Regions from separate parts of the Homo sapiens genome. Here all the other regions are linked to region 1. Evidence: fine-mapped expression QTL. A gene starts in region 1. Each other region holds a variant in brackets. All regions are shown on one strand. Distances are between the middles of the regions.

Evidence for each region. PIP is the estimated chance that this variant, and not a neighbour inherited with it, causes the effect. A credible set is the group of variants that fine-mapping cannot tell apart.
Region 2: its variant is the best candidate, but not a certain one, in a credible set for the expression of RHOT1 in whole blood (TOPMed, PIP 0.58).
Region 3: its variant is the best candidate, but not a certain one, in a credible set for the expression of RHOT1 in whole blood (INTERVAL, PIP 0.70).
Region 4: its variant is the best candidate, but not a certain one, in a credible set for the expression of RHOT1 in tibial nerve (GTEx, PIP 0.66).

What each region holds. Positions count from the first base shown.
Region 1 is chr17:32,140,599-32,145,598 of GRCh38, reverse strand. RHOT1 (ras homolog family member T1) reads right to left here and starts at 3,097. Exons shown (of 20, transcript NM_001033566.3): 1 at 2,870-3,097. The coding sequence starts at 2,906. LOC105371730 (a long non-coding RNA gene) reads left to right here and starts at 2,464. Exons shown (of 2, transcript NR_136413.1): 1 at 2,464-2,574; 2 at 2,886-4,373. RefSeq lists silencers at 2,817-2,876, 2,907-3,136 and an enhancer at 3,597-3,766.
Region 2 is chr17:31,955,355-31,960,354 of GRCh38, reverse strand. All of the region lies in intron 4 of SUZ12 (SUZ12 polycomb repressive complex 2 subunit), which reads right to left. Among named protein-coding and RNA genes, the nearest start is that of SUZ12, 21 kb to the right of the region's middle. The variant G/C (reference allele first, on the strand shown) is at 2,477.
Region 3 is chr17:32,163,069-32,168,068 of GRCh38, reverse strand. The region is part of intron 1 of RHOT1 (ras homolog family member T1); the gene reads right to left. Among named protein-coding and RNA genes, the nearest start is that of RHOT1, 23 kb to the right of the region's middle. The variant GT/T (reference allele first, on the strand shown) is at 2,706.
Region 4 is chr17:32,076,799-32,082,412 of GRCh38, reverse strand. No RefSeq gene overlaps it. Among named protein-coding and RNA genes, the nearest start is that of VILMIR, 3.4 kb to the left of the region's middle. The variant G/A (reference allele first, on the strand shown) is at 2,506.

The DNA of each region.
Region 1 (5,000 bases):
TGCTCCACGGAAAATGGAGGAAAGCAGGAGCAGAAAGACTGGTTAAGGGAGATATTGCAAAAGTCAAGGCCAAAGCCAGTGGAATTTTGAAGTAGTTTGGCAGAGGTTGCCATGATAATCAGAGTTAGACAAACCAGTTAAAGATCTGCCAGATTCATTTTAAAAGAAGATAACAGTTCCATTTTCTTAAGGAACTTAACTAGTAGAAAACAAATATATCTCAATTTAATTTAAAAAGAAGACTCCATTAAAATGAAAACTATCCTGTTTACTATTATCAATATATATATATATTTTTTGAGACAGAGTCTCACTCTGTCCCCCAGGTTGGAATGCAGTGGTGTGATCTCAGCTCACTGCGACCTCCATCTCCTGGGTGAAAGCCATTCTCCTGCCTTAGCCTCCTGAGTAGCTGGGATTACAGGTGCGTGCTGCCACAGCTGACTAATTATTGTATTGTTAGTAGAGACTGGGTTTCGTCATGTTGGTCAGTTTCCTGGTCTCAAACTCCTGACCTCAGGTGATCTGCCCACTTTGGCCTCCCAAAGTGTTGGGGTTACAGGCATGAGCTACTGTGCCCAGCCATTAAAAATTAATTTTTTCTTTAAGAGACAGTCTTGCTCTGTCACCTGGGCTGAAGTGCAGTGGTGTGATCATGGCTCACTGCAACCTCGATTTTCTGGGTTCAAGCAATTCTCTCATCTCAGCCTCCCCAGTAGCTAGGACTACAGGTGCACACCACCATGCCTAGCTAATAGTGTTGTGGTTTTTTTTTTTTGAGGCGGGGTCTCACTATGTTGCCCAGGCTGGTCTCAAACTCCTGCGTTCAAGCAATCCTCCTGCCTCAGCCTCCCAAAGTGCTGGGATTACAGGAGTGAGCCACTGTGCCCAGCCATTAATATTTAAATTTTTTGTAGAGACAGGATCTCACTACATTGCCCAGGTTGGTCTCAAACTCCTTGGCCTCAAGTGATCCTCCTGCCTCAGCCTCCCAGAGTGCTTGGAATACAGGTATAAGCCACCTCACCCAGCTGTGTGGGAGCATTATTAAAGGTTTTTTTTCAGACAGAGTCTTGCTCTGCTGCCCAGGCTGGCATGTCTCAGCTCACTGCAACCTCCTCCTCCAGGGTTCAAGTGATTCTCCTGCTTCAGCCTCCAGAGTAGCTGGGACTACAGGTGTGTGCCACCACACCCGGCTAATTTTCGTATTTTTAGTAGAGACGGGGTTTCACCATGTTGGCCAGGCTCGTCTCGAACTCCTGACCTCAAGTGATCTGCCTGCCTTGGCCTCCCAAAGTGCTGGGATTACAGGCATGAGCCACAGTGCCTGTAATCCCAGGCACTGCACTCCAGCCTCGGTGACAGAGCGAGACTCTGTCTCAAAACAACAACAACAACAAACTATTTCATCATATATTTAAGGATCAGTTTTTTAAGCAAGTCGTCTACTCACTTTCCCTACCTTGCTCCAAAAGCATAAGCATGAATTATATGTTAAATAACACCTTCCTGAACCTTGTCAAGGAAGTCCATGAAAAATACAGATTAAGATATAGTTATAAATAAAAATAAAAATTTACAACTGCAAATCAAAAAGTAAACTATGGCTGGCTAAGCTTACTCCTAAATTCTAATTCTAAAGGAAGATTTCTCCAAACAGCAGGTGGATGAAATTTCAATGAACTCAAAGAACACTACAGAAGAGGGTAAAAACGTGTTAACTTTCTTCCTTGGGATTCCATCACGGTGACCCTGAGGGGTTACCAAGAATGAAATAATGGTTTAAAACAGAATGCTTCGAAACAGCAATGGCAGACTATTAACGAATGTATTAACTCTTTAAAACAAACAATCCAGTTATCCCTGGCCCACTTTCTTATTTTAGTCCTAGCAACTGAGTTACATAACTTGCAGAGTGAAATCAAGAAGTCCCCGCTGTTGCGTCCTCATGTCAGTGAACAGAGGGAACTCTCCTTTATTATATTTTCAAAAGGTGAAATGTATGAAATTTCTGGGTGGGGGGAGATATCAAATGTCTGTGTGCCTGTGGTTATTAATAAGTTAACTACGAAGTAACTATGGAATAAATAATGCTTAAAAAGAGGGCAAAGATTACGCTTTAGGGTAACAACAATTGGACCCTCCCCAGATAATTCTAATTCATTGAGCGCTTGCATAACTCGAAGTTGAGTAAAAATTTTTGATGAAATATCTCGAGTACGAGGAGTTAGTCCAATGCAAAGTACAAGTACTGCTAAAAAGGATCCGGCCCTTTCCACTACTCATATCTTAATGTCAATACATAGAGAGAGTGAAGACTGCGAGTGCCAAAAAAATGCAGAAACCTGACCTTGCCCACAAGTCGAATAGTTCTGCACCCCTCCCCCAGCTTCCCCGGGAGCCGGTTCACGCAATCCCTATTGGTCAGTCTGCTTATTCCAGCACCTGCCTGGCAGTGATAAGGGAATCTCCAGAAGACAAGAAGGTCTGAAAGGAGGCGGCCTGGGAAACTGTGAGGCCCAGAAGGACAGGGTTCGAAGAGGAAAAGGAGGAGAGAAGCTTCGGAGGGATGAGGTCGGGCGGTTAGGGCTAATAGGGACATGGCTTGGGAGGACGGCTGGGGAACAGGGAAAGGAGATCTCTGGAGGGCCCAGGTGAGGTGACAGGGTGAGGGCCGCCGGCGGCCAGCCAAAAGAGAAGAGTGAAGGGGCTGGAAGGCCTAGGAACGCGGAGAAAGGCGAGCGGAGCTGTGAGGCGCGAGAAGGGCCGGGGCTGCAAAGGTTGGGGCTGCAGGGGCGACAGGGGCGACAGGGGCTGCAGGGGCAGGGAGGGCAGGGACTCAGGGGCCGGCCAGAGGGTGCGGACTCACGTTCTCCCACCAGCAGGATCCGCACGTCTTTCTTCATGTCGGCGGCTCTCGGGGGCCGGCCTCCGCCCGCACGCACGGAGTGGACTCCTCTCACCAGGAGCACCCACCCCACGGCGCCACCTGCCAGCCTCTTCGGCCGCCGGGGCCCGCCGCGCCGCCCCCTCAGTTGCTTCCCCGCAAGAGAGCCGGGACAGCGCCAGCTCCGCCTCCTCCGGCCCAGCGGGCTGTGGCGGCGGCGGCGGCGGCGGCGGCGGCGGCGGCGGCGGCGGCGGCGGCGGGGACGACGGCACGCGGCGAGGGACACGCGCTTTCGGAACGCGAACGCGCTCTGCGCCGGAACAGCGCTCCCGCTGTCAGGCCGCCGCAGCGCAGGCCCAGGGAGCCTCGCCCACCCTCCTTTGGGCACCGCGACCCCGGAGACACTTGGGCCAGGAATTTGAATGGCGGATTCCCTGGTTTAACCCCGTTTATTTTATAGATAGGGACAGAAATTCCCTGTTCAAAGTCACATAGCTAGAGCTTGGCAGTGACTCAGAGCAGGGATCTTCTCACCAGACCATAAACTCCGGGAGGGCAGCGATCAGCTTGCATGGTTTTCAGCTGCGTCCCCACGTTATTGGATAGGGCCGTCAGAAAATGCTTGATCGAGTAGGGCGACTGGCTCCCAGGATCCGGCGCTTTCCACTCCCCAAAGCCCGTCACCCTAGTTGCTTTTGCCTCTGATGCTTATAAAATACGATTATAAGATTCGTTTTTACGCTGTGTGAACAAGACTCCTTTCTTTATAACCAAACTAAGTGACTTTTTTTCTGTCTATGTAGTTTATTTTATGGCAGGGTTTTCGGACACTCTTCTTTACTCAGGCTTACCCAGCGTAATGCTAGACACGGAGGTGGCACTCGATAATAAACTCTAGATGATTTTTCTAACATTGCCTTAATTTTCTCGTGACCCTCTCCATCTGGAGGAATTTGTTGTTACATGCTTAATGTTTGGTACACAATGGCAAATATATATATATACATACGCGTGCGAATATATATCACATCCCTAATACTTGGCACACAGTGGGAAATATAAAATACATAAATTAATGAGGAAGCACTATCTGTGCATAATGTACATTTTTTCTATCTTAAATATTACACAATAAACACTTAAAGGGAATGAAATGTGCGTAATACCAACTTCCCTTTCTCCTAGGAGAAGTCATGTGGTCTCTTGCAGCAGTTAAGAGTTGCTGGCAAATTTCCTGGGTTTGAATCTAGGCTCCACATAATAGCTCTGTGATCTCGACTAAGTGCTTTTATTTTTACTTCCCTCAGCCACTGTTCCTTCTTCTGTAGCATGGAAATAATGATGATAATACCTTCCTCTTGAGATGGTTGTGAGTAATAAATACTATAATACTTGTCAAGCATTTGGTACAGTGCCAGACTCAGAGCGTGTGCTCTACTGATCTCAGCTATCATTATTATATTAAAAAGTCACTAAAAAGTTGTAATCCACAGATTTTTTGTTTTGTTTTGGTTTTGTTTTGAGACGGAGTCTCGCTCTGTCGCCCAGGCTGGAGTGCAGTGGCGCAATCTCGGCTCACTGCAAGCTCCGCCTCCTGGGTTCACGCCATTCTCCTGCCTCAGCCTCCCGAGTAGCTGGGACTACAGGCGTCCGCCACCACGCCCGGCTAATTTTTTTTTTTTTTTTTTTGTATTTTTAGTGGAGACGGGGTTTCACCGTGTTAGCCAGGATGGTCTCGATCTCCTGACGTCGTGATCCGCCTGCCTTGGCCTCCCAAAGTGCTGGGATTACAGGCGTGAGCCACCGCGCCCAGCCTAATCCACAGGTTTTGAGGCAAATATGTTGTTGTGTTTACTGCAGAATTTCACCATCTTAGTTATTTGATGTCCATAAGGAGCACAGGGGAGAAAGCCCTTTCAAAAACAACTCTATCCCTGTCCGTGTTAGGAAAAAGAGGGAGATGGGAAAGACATACTCCTTGTTCACTGAGAGATAATGAAGTCGCGTTCCTGGGTAGATGTAAATAAGGTGCTTTCATCTCCCTCCTCCCCCCACACCTCAATGAGTGGAAATGTGAAATTCAGGAGGCTTGGTTACCTGATCTTTCAGGGAA
Region 2 (5,000 bases), 190 kb after region 1:
CCTGTAATCCCAGCTACTCAGGAGGCTGAGGCAGGAGAATCGCTTAAACCTGGGAGGCGGAGGTTGCAGTGAGCCGAGATTGCATCACTGCACTCCAACCTGGGCAACAGAGCGAGACCCCGTCTCAAAAAAAAAAAGTAAACACTCTGATATGTACTAGAATAAAGTGTACCAATGATCCCTTCCATAGGTGGTTTGTTCCAAGGAAAAGGGCAAAGTTTTCTCTCCCTTCCCTCTGCCCTCTCTTGCAGCTACTTTGTCCACATCTTAATTGGTTAGGCTGGACCAGATGAACGGGAGGAAAAGAAACACGTAAGGTTGGTCAGGACTATTTGGTTTTAGGCCACAAAAAAATCTAGTTTACATGACCAGAATAAGATATAAGAAACTTAGTTCATCTATGTCATGTGCTCCCTGCATCTTCTCAGGAAGTAAGACACATGATAACAAGAAATCAGGTAAAGAATTTGAAATTTTGAGATGCAAATTTCAGCATTCCAAGCACAAACATCTGACAGTTCTGATACAGTCTACAGAAAATGATGCTAAGCTAATTCATAAGAGACTAACACTTTGAAATCTAATTCAAGGAAGAGCCTCCCATTTTAAGAACAGCCAGATCCCACAGAGGAAGTAATTTTTATGACAAGAGGAGACCAAGATTAGTGCCTCTAATTTATATACATGAATCTGCTAGCAGCAGGAATAAGGCTTCATTTTAAGGGCATGGCAGTATTACCTCAAAACAGGACAAGTCTGATAATCTACTTGGTTTCTATAGTTAGATGTTAGCTATTCAACTTTTGTTATATACATTTCATCCTATGATATGTAAAGCTGAGAAACTCGTGTCTACATCAAGTCCAATATTCTGAAATCCAGGATCTCAAAATATAGGGGTTAGACGCACTTTCTAATGAGAAGATAAAGCTCAATGGTGGATGATGTGTGTGTGTCTATTAATTACAAATGGATCACTCTGCAGAAGTACTGTGAAGCAAACAAAGGAATTACTACAAAACCAAAAATTATACAAGGAATATTTTTACAATTTGTTCTTGAATATTCAAATTTTTAAGAATCAGATATGCTTAAGTGGCAACTGATGAGGCACCTTCAAGAGTAAGTATGCAAAAAGAAATGTATAGCCAGGTTCTGAAAAAAGAACAAAAACTCAAGACTGAAAAGATGACAATTTGAAAACAACTTCAAAGCTTATAGTCAAGGCAAAGTGTATTAAAAAAAAGAAAGGGAAAACATCAGATCTTATTAATGGTGGGAAAGACACATAACCAACCTAAGAGGTAGTCTACAGATTTTATTTATTTATTTATTTTGAGACGGAGTCTCCCTCTGTCACCCAGGCTGGAGTGCAGTGGTGCGATATCTGCTCACTGCAACCTCCACCTCCTGGGTTCAAGCAATTCTCCTGCCTCAGCCTCCCGAGTAGATGAAATTACAGGTGCACGCCACCATGCCCAGCTAATGTTTTATTTATTTATTTATTTTTGAGACAGAGTTTCACTCTGTAGCCAGGATGGAGTGCAGCGGTGTAATCTCGGCTCACTGCAACCTCTGCCTCCCAGGTTTAAGCAATTCTCCTGCCTCAGCCTCCCGAGTAGCTAGAAATACAGGCACATGCCACCACGCCCAGCTAATTTTTGTATTTTTACTAGAGATGGGGTTTCACCATGTTGGCCAGGATAGTCTCAATCTCTTGACCTCATGATCCGCCTGCCTTGACCTCCCAAAGTGCTGGGATTACAGGCGTGAGCCACCGCACCTGGCCTAATTTTTTGGATTTTTAGTAGAGATGGGGTTTTTACCATGTTGGTCAAGCTGCTCTTGAACTCTTCACCTCAAGTGAACCACCTGCCTTGACCTCCCAAAGTGCTGGGATACAGGCGTGAGTCACCATGCCTGGGCCAGCCTAAAGATTTTAAACTGCAGCTAAATGTACAAAATAGAAAAGTAGGGAAAAATCATTAATACAATAGTTCTCTTAAAAATAATTTAATAGGTCGGATGCAGTGGCTCACGCCTGTAATCCTAACACTTTAGGAGGACAAAGTGGGCAGATCACTTGAACTCAGTAGTTCGAGGTCACACTGGGCAAAACGGTGAAACCTCATCTCTACAAAAAGTACAAAAGGGGCTGGGCGCGGTGGCTCACGCCTGCAATCCCGGCACTTTGGGAGGCTGAGGTGGGCGGATCATGAGGTCAGGAGATTGAGACATCCTGGCTAACACGGTGAAACCCCATCTCTACTAAAAATACAAAAAAATTAGCCGGGCGTGATGGCAGGCGCCTGTAGTCCCAGCTACTCGGGAGGCTGAGGCAGGAGAATGGCATGAACCCGGGAGGCAGAACTTGCAGTGAGCGGAGATTGCGCCACTGAACTCCAGCCTGGGCGACAGAGCAAGACTCTGTCTCAAAAAAAAAAAAAAAAAAAAAAAAAGGACAAAAGGTGAGCCA[G/C]GGCCAGGTGCAGTGGCTCACACCTGTAATCCAGGGCCAGGTGCAGTGGCTCACACCTGTAATCCAGCACTTTGGGAGGCTGAGGCTGGTGGATAACTTGAGGTCAAGAATTCGAGGCCAGCCTGGCCAACATGGTGAAACTCCATCTCTGCTAAAAATACAAAAACTGGCTGGGGGCAGTGGCTTACGGCTACAATCCCAGCACTTTGGGAGGCTGAGGCGAGCAGATCACCTGAAGTCAGGAATTCGAGACCAGTCTGCTCTACCTGTTGAAACCCTGTCTCTAAAAATGCAAAAAAATTAGCTAGGCGTGGTGGCAGGCACCTGTAATCCCGGCTACTCGGGAGGCTGAGGCAGAAGAATCGCTTGAGCCTGGGAGGTGGAAGTTGCAGTGAGCCAAGATCACGCCACTGTACTCCAGCCTGGGCAAGAAGAAAGAAACTCCGTACCAAAAAAAAAAAGAATACAAAAATTATCCGGGTATGGTGGTGCATGTCTGTAATCCCAGCTACTCAGGAAGCTGAGACAGGAGAATTACATGAACTCAGGAGGTGGAGGTTGTAGTGAGCAGAGATCACACCACTGCACTACAGCCTGGGCAACAAAGCAAGACTCCATCTGGAAGAGAAAAAAAAAAAACAAAAAATGTAGCCAGGTAGTCCCAGCTAATCAAGAGGCTGAGGAGAGAGGATCTCTTCATCCCAGGAGGTTGAGACTGCAGTGAGCCAGTGATCGTGCCACTGCACTCCAGCCCGGGCAATGGAGCAAGACTCTATCTCAAAAATAATAATAGTAATAAAATAAGGCCAGGCACGCTGGCACAGGCCTGTAATCCAGCACTTTGGGAGGCCGAGGTGGGTGGATCACTTGAGGTCAGGAATTCAAGACCAGATTGGCTAACACAGTGAAAACTAGTCTCTACTAAAAATACAAACATTAGCTGGGCGTGGTGGCACATGCCTATAATCCCAGCTACCTGGGAGGCTGAGGCATGAGAATCCCCTGAACCTGGGAGGCAGAGGTTGCAGTGATCCTAGATGGCGACATTGCTGAGCCATAGAATGAGACTGTCTCAAAAAACCAAAAAATATATATATATACATATATACATATATATACACACACACACGTATATATAGAGAGAAAATAAAATAAATAATTTAAGAATTTAATGACTTTTTTACATACCACAATACTAGGCGAGAAGTGCAATAATAGCAGAGGTGGGTAGGGAGGGTTTTCGGTGATATCTCGAGGTTCTGAAGTGACCGAAGAGCAGCATCCTGCTCCTGGAACTCAGATTACAATCCTAACCATCATATGTACTACTGGTCTAATGTTAGAAGAAACAGAACAATGCAGAAACAATAACTATATATATTTAAAAACTGACTGGGTGCGGCGGCTTATGCCTGTAATCCCAGCAGTTTGGGAGGTTGAGGTGGGCCGATCACGAGGTCAGATCAAGACCATCCTGGCCAACACGGTGAAACCCCATCTCTACTAAAACACAAAACATTAGCCAGGCATGGTGGCACACGCCTGTAGTCCCAGCTACTCCAGAGGCTGAGGCAAGAAAATTGCTTGAACCCAGGAGGCGGAGGTTGCAGTGAGTCGAGACTGCTGGCGACAGAGTGAGACTCCCTCTCAAAAAAATAGTAATACTGGCTGGGCGTGGTGGCTCACGCCTGTAATCCCAGCACTTTGGGAGGCCGAGGCGGACAGATCACGGGGTCAGGAGATTGAGAACATCCTGGCTAACACGGTGAAACCCCATCTCTACTAAAAAATACAAAAAATTAGCCGGGCGTGGTGGCAGGCGCCTATAGTCCTAGCTACTCAGGAGGCTGAGGCAGAAGAATGGCGTGAACCCGGGAAGGCAGAGCTTGCAGTGGGCCGAGATCGCACCACTGCACTCCAGCCTGGGCGACAGAGCGAGACTCCATCTCAAAAACAAAAAATAATAATAATAATAATATACAACTTTAAAAACAACAGGCTGGGTGTAATGGTTCACACTTGTAATCTCAATGCTTTGAGAGGCTGAGACAGGAGGACTGTTAGAGGCCAGAAGTTTGAGACCATCTTGGGCAACATGACAAGACAATGGATCTCTACTGTAAGTTTTTTTGAGATGTAGTCTCACTCTGTCGCCCATGCTGGAGTGCAATGGCGCGATCTCTCCTCCCTGCAACCTCCATCTCCCAGGTTTAAGCGATTCTCCTGCCTCAGCCTCCTGAATAGCTGGGATTACAGGTGCACGACACTCTGCCCAGCTAATTTTTATATTTTTAGTAGAGATGGGGTTTTTACCATGTTGGTCAGGCTGTTCTCAATCTCCTGACCTCGTGATCCGCCCGCCTCGGCCTCCAAAAGTGCTGGGACTACAGGCATGAGTCACCGTGCCCCGGCTACAAAATTTTACAAAATCATCCAGGCATGGTATCTTGCGCCTGTGGTCCTAGGCTATTCGGTAGGCTGAGGCAGGAGGATCATTTGAGGCCAGGAGGTCAAGGGTAAAGTG
Region 3 (5,000 bases), 22 kb before region 1:
ATTCTGTAAACAAATGTTTCCTTTTCTTTTTTTCCTTAGAGATGGGGGTCTCTGTCACCTAGGCTAGAGCATAGTGGGATGATCATAGCTCACTGTAGCCTCAAACTCCTGGGCTCAAGCAATCCTCCTGCCTTAGCCTCCTGAGTAGCTAGTATCACAGGCCACGCCACCACATCCAGTGAATTTTTTAATTCTTTGTACGGACAGGGTCTCACCATGTTGCCCAAGATGATCTTAAACTCCTGGCCTCAAGCAATCCTCCTGTCTTGGTCTCCCAAGTTGCTGGTATTATACGACCCAACCAAGATTTTCGATGTAGATGAAACAGCCTTGTATCAGAAGAAGATGCCATCGATAGCTAGAGAGCAGATATCAATGCCTGGTTTCAATGCTTAAAAGGATAGGCTGACTCTTGTTAGGGGCTAATGCAGGTTGCTGCCTTTAAGTGGAAGCCAGTGGTCATTTGCCAGTCTGAAAATCCTAGGGCCCTTAAAAATTATGCTCAATCTGGCCGGGCATGGTGGCTCACGCCTGTAATCCCGGCTACTTGGGAGGCTCCACTAAAAATACAAAAATTAACCGGGCATTGTGGTGGGTGCCTGTAGTCCCAGCTACTCGGGAGGCTGAGGCAGGAGAATGGTGTGAACCCGGGAGGCGGAGCTTGCAGTGAGCCAAGATTGCACTACTGCACTCTAGCCTGGGCGACAGAGCGAGACTCCGTCTCAAAAAAAAAAAAAAAATTATGCTCAATCTATTCTGCCTGTGCTCTATAAATGGAATAACAAAGCCTGGATGACAGCACATTTGTTTACAGAATGGTTTATTGAATATTTTAAGGCTACTGTTGAGACCTACTCCTCAAAAAAAAAAAAGATTCCTTTCAAAATATTACTGCTCACTGACAATACACCTGGTCACCCAAGAGCTCAGATGGAGACGTACAAGGAGATTATTTTCGTGCCTGCTAACATGACATCCAGTCTGCAGTCCATGGTTCAAGGAGTAATTATAACTTTCAAGCCTTATTATTTAGGCTTACTATTTACATTGTGTAAGCCTATATATAGCTGCCATAGATAGTGATTCCTCTGATGGATGTGGGCAAAGTAAACTAAAAACCTTCTGGAAATAATTCACCATTCTAGATGCCATCAAGAACATTTGTGATTCACAGGAGATCAAAGTAACATTATCAGGAGTTTGGAAGAAGTTGGTTCCAACCCTCACATGACTTTGAGGGATTCAAGCCTCAATGAAGGAATTGCAGATATGGTGGAAATAGCAAGAAAAGAGCTAGAATTAGAAGTGAAGCCTAAAAATGTGACTAAATTGCTGCAATCTCATAATAAAACTTGAACAGATGAAGAGTTTATTATGGATGAGCAAAGAATGTGGTTTCTTGAGACAGAATCTACTGGTGAAGATGCTGTGAGCAATATTGAAATGACAACAAAGGACCTGGAATATTACATAAACTTAGTTGATAAAGCAGCAGTAGGGTTTGAGAGGATTGACTCCAATTCTGAAAGAAGTTCCACTGTGGGTAAAATGCTATTAAATGGCATCACATGCTACAGAGAAATCTTTAGTGAAAGGAAGAGTCAATCGATGCAGCAAATGTCATAGTTGTCTTATTTTAAGAAATTGCCACAGCCACCCCAGCCTTCAGGAATCACCACCCTAATCAGTCAGCAGCCATCAACCCTGAGGCAAGACTCTCCACCAGCAAAAAGGTTACAACTCACTGAAGGCTCAGATGATCATTAGCATTTTTTGACAATAAAGTATTTTTAAATTAAGGTATGTACATTTTTTAGATATTACATTACACACTTAACAGACTACAGTATAGTATGAACATAACTTTTTTTTTTTTTTTTTGAGATAGAGTCTCGCTGTGTCACCCAAGCTGGAGTGCAGTGGCACAATCTTGGCTCACTGCAACCTCTGCCACCCAGGTTCAAGCGATTTTCATGTCTCAGCCACTCGAGTGGCTGAGATTCCAAGCATGTGCCACCATGCCTGGCTACATTTTTTTGTATTTTTAGTAGAGATGGGGTTTCGCCTTGTTGGCCATGCAGGTCTCAAACTCCTGGTCTCAGGAGATCCGCCCATCTTGGCATCCCAAAATGCTGGGATTACAGGCATGCACCACCACACCTAGCCTATAAACATAACTTTTATATGCACTGGGAAAACAAAAAAATTTGTGAGCCACTTTACTGTGGTAGTGTAGAACCAAACTCACAGTTTCTCTGAGGTATGCCTGTTTACTTATTTATATATGAGTATAGACTAACAGATTCCTCTATTATCCTATTATTTTATGGTTTGTCATTATTTGGAGGTTCAAGTTCCATTTTACTTCTAAAAATGATATTTATGCAGGTATAAGTCAACATGTGCAATATGATCCCATTTTAAAGATAAATATGTATGTGCATAGAAAAAACCACTGGATGAATATATTATACTAAAGTGGTTATCTTGGAAAATAAACACAAAAATTTTTTAACTAGAAAAGATCAGTAACTTTTTTTTTTTTTGAGACAGGGTCTCTCTCGATCACTCAGGCTGGAGTGCAGTGGCACGATCTTGGTTCACTGCAACTTCCACCTCCCAGGTTCAAGCCATTCTTGTGCCTCAGTCTCTTGAGTAGCTGGGATTACAGGCATGTGCCACCATGCCTGGCTAATTTTTGTATT[GT/T]TTTTTTTTTTTTTTTTTTTTTTTTTGAGACGGAGTCTTGCTCTGTCGCCCAGGCTGGAGTGCAGTGGCGCGATTTCGGCTTATTGCAAGCTCTGCCTCTTGGGTTTACGCCATTCTCCTGCCTCAGCCTCCCAAGTAGCTGGGACTACAGGCACCTGCCACCGTGCCCAGCTAATTTTTTGTATTTTTAGTAGAGATGGGGTTTCACCGTGTTAGCCAGGATGGTCTCGATCTGACCTTGTGATCCGCCTGCCTTGGCCTCCCAAAGTGCTGGGATTACAGGCGTAAGCCACCACGCCCACGCCCGGCCCTGTTTTTTTTGTTTTGTTTTGTTTTTTTGTTTTTTGTTTTGCTGTTGTTGTTGTTAGTAGAGAGGGAGTTTCACCATGTTGGCCAGGCTGGTCTTGAACTCCTGGCCTGAAGTGATCCACCTGCCTTGGCCTCCCTAAGTGCTGGGATTATAGGTGTGAGCCACCACACCCAGCTTATTTATTTTTGAGACAGGGTATCACTCTGTCACCCAGGCTGAAGTGCAGTGGTGCCATCACAGACCACTGAAGTTTTGACCTTCCAGGATCAACGATCCTCCCACCTCAGCCTCCTGGGTAGCTGGGACTACAGGTGTGCACTACTATATACCTGGCTAATTTTTTGTATTTTTAGTAGAGACAGGGTTTCACTATGTTGCCCAGGCTGGTCTTGAATTCCTGGGCTCGACATCCATCTGCCTCAGCCTCCCAAAGTGCTGGGACTACAGGTGTAAGCCACCACATTCAGCCTCAGTAAGTATTATTTTTAAGGTAATTTTTGGTATTAAAAATTGGGATGTTAGTCTGGGCACGGTGGCTCACGCCTGTAATTCTAGCACTTTGGGAGGCCGAGGTGGGCGGATCATGAGGTCAAGAGATCAAGACCATCCTGGTCAACATGGTGAAACCCCGTCTCTACTAAAAATACAAAAATTAGCTGAGCATGGTGGCACACGCCTGTAGTCCCAGCTGCTTGGAAGGCTGAGGCAGAAGAATCGCTTGAACCCGGGAGGCAGAGGCTGCAGTGAGCCAAGACGGCGCCACTGCACTCCAGCCTGGCGACGGAGCGACACTCCGTCTAAAAAAAGAAAAAAATTGGGATGTTAAAGATGACAACTAAAATTTACCCAAAAGTTGACAGGTTAAATGCATTCTTTCATCCTTTGATAAATATTTTTTAAGCAATTCTATAAGCCAGGCACTATTCTTTTCGCGCAGTGGCGCGATCTTGGTTCACTGCAACCTCCGCCTCCTGGATTCAAGCAATTCTCCTGCCTCAGCCTCCCTAGTAGCTGGGACTACAGGTGCACACCACCACGTCTGGCTAATTTTTGTATTTTTATTAGAGACAGGGTTTCACCATGTTGGCCAGGATGGTCTCGATCTCTTGACCTCGTGATCCACCTGCCTCGGCCTCCCAAAGTGCTGGGATTACAGGGGTGAGCCACCACGCCTGGCCACCAGGCACTATTCTTCATCCTGGGGATACCACTGATCATGGCCACTAGGTCCTCTCTACTTTTACATTACATTGTAACAGACTTAGATAGTTATCACCAATATAGTTAACATTCTTTGTTTTTTTTTTCCCTTTCTTTTTTTTTGAGATGGAGTCTTGCTCTGTCACCCAAGCTGGAGTGCAGTGGCACGATCTCAGCTCACTGCAACCTCTGCCTCCCAGATTATAGTGATTCTCCTGCCTCAGCCTCCAAAGTAGCTGGGATTACAGGTGCGCACCATCACGCTGGCTAATTTTTGTATTTTTAGTAGAGACGGGATTTTACCATATTGGCCAGGCTGGTCTCGAACTCTTGACCTTGTGATCTGCCCACCTTGGCCTCCCAAAATGCTGGGATTACCAGGCGTGAGCCACCACACCCAGCCTTGGTTAACATTCTTTTTACATATCTGGATAAAAAGAAAAATTTTAAAAATGTACCATCTCCGATTCATCATTCTTCTGCATTTAGCAGTCAAGATCTGTCAAATTTTCCTTTGAAATTTTTAACATTCATTCCTTCCCTCACTGTTCCCCTATTTCCCTAATTATGGTACTTTTATTGAAAAATCTCCCAGTCCCAAATTTCCTATCCCTTTCTCCAGTCTCTCTCCTCATTAATCTACCAACAATATAAATGCTGGTCCATTTTTCTTACATGCTCTTTTCATTTTCTGACTCACCTGATCAAACGCTTTCTTTGACTCTCAATTATCTACCACACCAAAATGAAATCATTCTACTGGCCTTTGAATATCATAAATAAT
Region 4 (5,614 bases), 63 kb after region 1:
TTACTGAGGTTGCCTTGGCCACAGCCTCCTGGCTTCTGCCCTGGCCTCCATCATCCGTTTGTTTCGGCCTCAAGTGATCTGTTCGTCTCGGCCTCCCAAAGTGCTGGGATTACAGGTGTGAGCCACCGCGCCTGGCCAAAATTTATAAACCTTGACTCTTATTCTCGGTGTGTCCCACAATACCTGGCACCTACTAGATTTTCAAATATGCGTTGAATGAGTGAATTAAATAAATAATGTTGTGACTATGTAAGGATATAACTGATGTAAAGTTCTTGGCAGGTCGCCAGCATTCAATAAACCAAGATGCTGGGCACAGTGGCTCATGTCTGTAACCCCAGCATGTTGGGAGGCCGAGGCAGGAGGATAGTTTGAACCAGGGGTTCAAGAGCAGCCTGGACAACAAAGCGAGACCCTGTCTCTACAAAAATTACAAAAAAATTAGCTGGGTGTGATAGTGTATACCTGTGGTCCCAGCTATTCGGGAGGCTGAGGTGGGAGGATCACTTGAGCCTGGGAGGTTGAGGCTACAGTGAGCCAGGTTCCTGCGATCCAGCCTGAGTTACTGAGTGAGACCCTGTCCACATCCCCACAAGAGGTAAACTTATGTTCATCAAAAGACATGTACAAGGATGTTCATAGCTGCTTTATCTACAATAACCATTCACTGCAAACAACTCAAATATCTATCAGCAGTAAGATAAATACATTGTGATACATCTCCACAATGGAATATTATACAACAAAGAAAAAGAACAGGAAAACAGACATGACAATAGATTCTCACAGATACAATGTTGCGTAAAAGCAAGATGCCAAACCATGTATTTCCACTTACACAAAGTTCAGGGGTAGGCAAAACTAATCTATGATGAAAATGTCAAATTGGAGGATATTGACTGAGAAAGAGCATTTGGGAATTTCCTGGAGGGACAAATATGTTCTTCTGGTCTGCATGGTGGATACACAGGTATACATGTGTAGAAATTCACCACGCTGAAATTTATGATTTGTGCACTTTACCATATTCATTAAAAAAAAAAAAAAAGAGGAAGCCAGTCATGATGGCTTGTGCCTGTAATCCAAGCTACTCAGGAGGCTGAGATGGGAGGATCGCTTGAGGCCAAGAGCTCGAGACCAGCCTGGGTGATGCAGTGAGCCCTTGTCTTCATTAAAAAAAAAAAAAAAAAAAAAAAAGATTAGGCTGGGTGCAGTGGCTCACGCCTGTAATCCCAGCACTTTGGGAGGCCAAGGTGAGCAGATCACTTGAGGTCATGAGTTCGAGACTTGCCTTGAAAACATGGTGAAGCCCCGTTTCTACTAAAAATATAAAAATTAGCCAGGTTAGGCCAGGGACGGTGGCTTACGCCTGTAATCCCAGCACTTTGGAGGCCGAGGTGGGCGGATTATAAGGTCAGGAGTTTGAGACCAGCCAATATGGTGAAACCCCGTCTCTACTAAAAATACAAAAATTAGTCAGGTGTGGTGGGTGCCTGCCTGTAGTCCCAGCTACTCAGGAAGCTGAGGCAGAAGAATTGCTTGAACCTGGGAAGCAGAGGTTCCAGTGAGCTGAGATCGCGCCATTGCACTCCAGCCTGGGACACAGAGGAAAACTCCGTCTCAAAAAGAAAAAAAAATTAGCCAGGCATTGTGGAGGGTACCTGTAATCGCAACTCCTCAGGAGGCTGAGGCAGGAGAATCACTTGAACCTGGGAGGTGGAGGTTGCAGTGAGCCGAGGTCACACCACTCCACTACAGCCTGGGTGACAGAGCGAGACTCCATCTCAAAATAATAATCATAATAATAATGAAAAGAAATGATGCTGGATGCAGTGGCTCATGCCTATAATCCCAACACTTTGGGAGGCCAAAGCAGGAGGATCACTTGAAGCCAGGAGTTTGAGACCAGCCTGGGCAATGTAGCAGGACCCTATCTCTACAAAAACATATATATTTTAAAAATTAGCCAGGTGTGGTGGTGCATGTCTGTAGTCCCAGCTACTCGCATGGCTGAGGCAGGAGGATCACCTCAGTCCAGTAATTTGAGGCTGCAGTAAGGTGTGGTCATGCCACTGGACTCCAGCCTGGGCAATAGAGCAAGACCCTATCGCAAAATAAAAGAATAAAATATACAATAAAAATAAAACAGAGCAAAGAGAATGTCCCCTAGAGCCATGTGTGATCCATACGCTTTGTGAATCCTGACACCTCCTCTCCTTCGAGGTTGTACAACTGTCTTCCAAAGTTGGAAAAAAAATGTTTAAACCTGCCCAGATTCAGGAGGGAGGTCCCAGGGGTACCAGTGCCCTCCCCCATTTCCCAAGGACAACAAGGGTTTCCAGCCTCACTTGGCCTTGGGGTGTGCGCAGCTCGGTGTGAGGGCCAGTGGTTGATCTTGAAGTTTCTTTCCTACTCCCTCATCCGTTTCCTGCCCAAGCTGTGGTTCCAGCTGACTCCCCTATCAGAGGCTGCGAGTGAGTTCAGTTGTTATGGCAACGGGGCTGC[G/A]GAGATCCCCAGGAACCTGCTGGTCCGCCTCATTGCCTCACCGTATGGGGAGCTGCTTTTCCCCTTAAAAATGAAACGGGAGTGGGATGGGGGAGGAACCCCCTTCTTCTGCTCTGGAATGAAATGCCTCCCTCACCTGCTTTGTCGCAAACCCCCGGTTTGGAGAGGAGGGTCTGGATGGGACCCAGACTGTGGATAAGGATGGAGGGAGGAGAACTCCTGCTCCCTGGGTTTTAGCAGCCTTCCCAGGTCTCACAGAACACGAGGAACACGGTCTTTCTCCAGCTCCAACTTTTCTCATCTGTTCATTCATTTTTTCCACAGGAGGCATGAGGAGGTGAGAGATGGAAAGAATGCTGTCTGTCATTTGGAGTCAGAAGGAAAAGAAGGTTGAGGGTCTGCCAGCTCTGCTCTAGTGGTTTTTTCCTGTTTCACCTTTTACAAAATCGAGATAATCGTTTCTACTTGGTAGCGATATTGTGAGGTGTAAAATGGATTAATACATGCAAAATGCTTAAAGCAACTTCTGGCATACGGTGATCTCTCAACCAATCCATTGTTATTTTATTATTATTATTTTTTTGAGACAGAGTTTTGCTCTTGTTACCCAGGCTGGAGTGCAATGGTGTGATCTCGGCTCACTGCAACCTCTGTTTCCCGGATTCAAGCGATTTTCCTCCTCCTGAGTAGCTGAGATTACAGGTGCCCACCACCACACCCAGCTAATTTTTTGTTTTCTTTTGTTTTTTGTTTTTTTTTTTTGAGACAGAGTCTCACTCTGTTGCCCAGGCTGGAGTGCAGTGGCACGATCTCGGCTCACTGCAAGCTCTGCCTCCCGGGTTCACACCATTCTCCTGCCTCAGCCTCCCCAGTAGCTGGGACTACAGGCGCCCGCCACCACGCCTGGCTAATTTTTTGTATTTTTAGTAGAGATGGGGTTTCACCATGTTAGCCAGGATGGTCTCCATCTCCTGACCTCGTGATCCACCCACCTTGGCCTCCCAAAGTGCTGGGATTACAGGCGTGAGCCACCGCGCCTGGCCAATTTTTTGTATTTTTAGTAGAGATAAGGTTTCACCGTGTCAGCCAGGCTGGTCTCAAACTCCTGACCTCAGGTGATCCACCCGCCTCAGCCTCCCAAAGTGCTGGAATTACAGGTGTGAACCACCGTGCCCAGCAGGGAGACCCTGTTTCTACAAGAAAAAATTTACTGTGATCCCAGCACATTGGAAGGCCAAGGTGGGAGGATCACTTGAGCCTAGGAGTTCAAGTCCAGCCTGGGCAACATACATAGGGAGAACCCATCTCTTAAAAAAAGAAAAAAAGGAGAAATAATTACATGTAACCCTACCAGCAGTTTTGTGGGATTGCTATGATCATACCCATTTCACAGATTAGGTAACTGAGGTTTTAGTGCCCTGGAGATGAAGGCATTCTCTAGTCTCCCAGAAGCCCTGAACTCTTGAACAACCCCAAATGCTAAACTCAGCAGTAAAATGGCTGGTGGCTCCTACCTGAGGGTTCACAGAGGGGCTGCCTGTGCTTGCCTCCCAGCCCTTCCTTCCTGCATCCCAGCCCTTTCTTCCTGTGTATTAAGAGGGTTGCAGCTACTTCAGGGCCAGTGTCTCCACGAGTCATCATGACGGCTTCCTGATCATGGCTCTCTCTCTCTCTTTTTTTTTTTAAGACGAAGTCTCGCTCTGTCGCCCAGGCTGGAGTGCAGTGGCATGATCTCGGCTCACTGCAAGCTCCGCCTCCTGGGTTCACGCCATTCTCCTGCCTCAGCCTCCCTAGTAGCTGGGACTAGAGGCATGCACCACCACGCTCAGCTAATTTTTTTTGTATTTTTAGTATAGACGGGGTTTTACTATGTTAGCCAGGATGGTCTTGATCTCCTGATCTCGTGATCAGCCCGCCTCAGCCTCCCAAAATGCTGGGATTACAGACATGAGCCACCGCACCCGGCCGCCTCTCTCTTTTACTAACCACAGGGATTCAGAAAATTCTTCCTCCCTCGGGGCAAAAAAAAAAAAATAAATAAAAAATCATATATTATAGATGAACTGATGTAGTTTGGATCTGTTTCCCTGCCAAATCTCATGTTGAACTGTAATTCCCAATATTGGAGGTGGGGCTTGGTGGGAGGGGATTGGATCATGGGGGCGGATCCCTCATGAATGGCTTAGCGCCATCTCTTTGGTGCTGTCCACACAATTGTGAGTGAGTTCTTTGGAGAATTAGTTGTTTTGTTTGTTTGTTTTTTGAGATGGATTCTCGCTCTGTCACCCAGGCTGGAGTGCAGTGGTGCAATCTCAGCTCACTGCAACCTCCACCTCCTGGATTCAAGCGATTCTCCTGCCTCAGCCGCCTGAGTAGCCAGGATTATAGGCCTGCGCCACTGCGGCCAGCTAATTTTTTTGTATTTTTAGTAAAGATGGGGTTTCACTGTGTTGGTCAGGGTGGTCTCGAACTCCTGACCTCAAATGATCCACCTGCCTTGGCCTCCCAAAGTGTTGGGATTACAGGCTTGAGCCACTGCACCTGGCCTGGAGATCTGGTTGTTTAAGTGTGTGGCACCTCCCCTCCACCCCACTCTCTCTCCTGCTCCTGCTTTTGCCATGTGAAGTTCCTGCTTCACCTTCTGCCATGAGTTAAAGCTCCCTGAGATCTTTCCAGAAGCCAAGCAGATGCCAGCACTGTGCTTGTACAGCCCGCAGAACTGTGAGTCAATTAAGCCTCTTTTCTTTATAAATTACCCATTCTAGCCAGGTGTGATGGCTCACGTCTGTAATCCCAGCACTTTGGGAGGCCGAGGCAGGCGGATCACTTGAGGTTAGAAGTTTGAGACCAGCCTGGCAAACATGGTGAAACCCCATCTTTACTAAAAATACAAAAATTAGCCCGGTGTGGTGGCACACACTTGTAATCACAGCTACTTGGGAGGCTGAGGCAGGAGAATCGCTTGAACCCGGGAGGAGGAGGTTGCAGTGAGCCAAGATCGTGCCACTGCACTCTAGCCTAGGTAACAGAGTGAGACTCCATCTCAAATAAAATAAAATAAAGTGAAATAAAGTAAAATAAATAAAATAAAATGTACCCATTCTTTGAT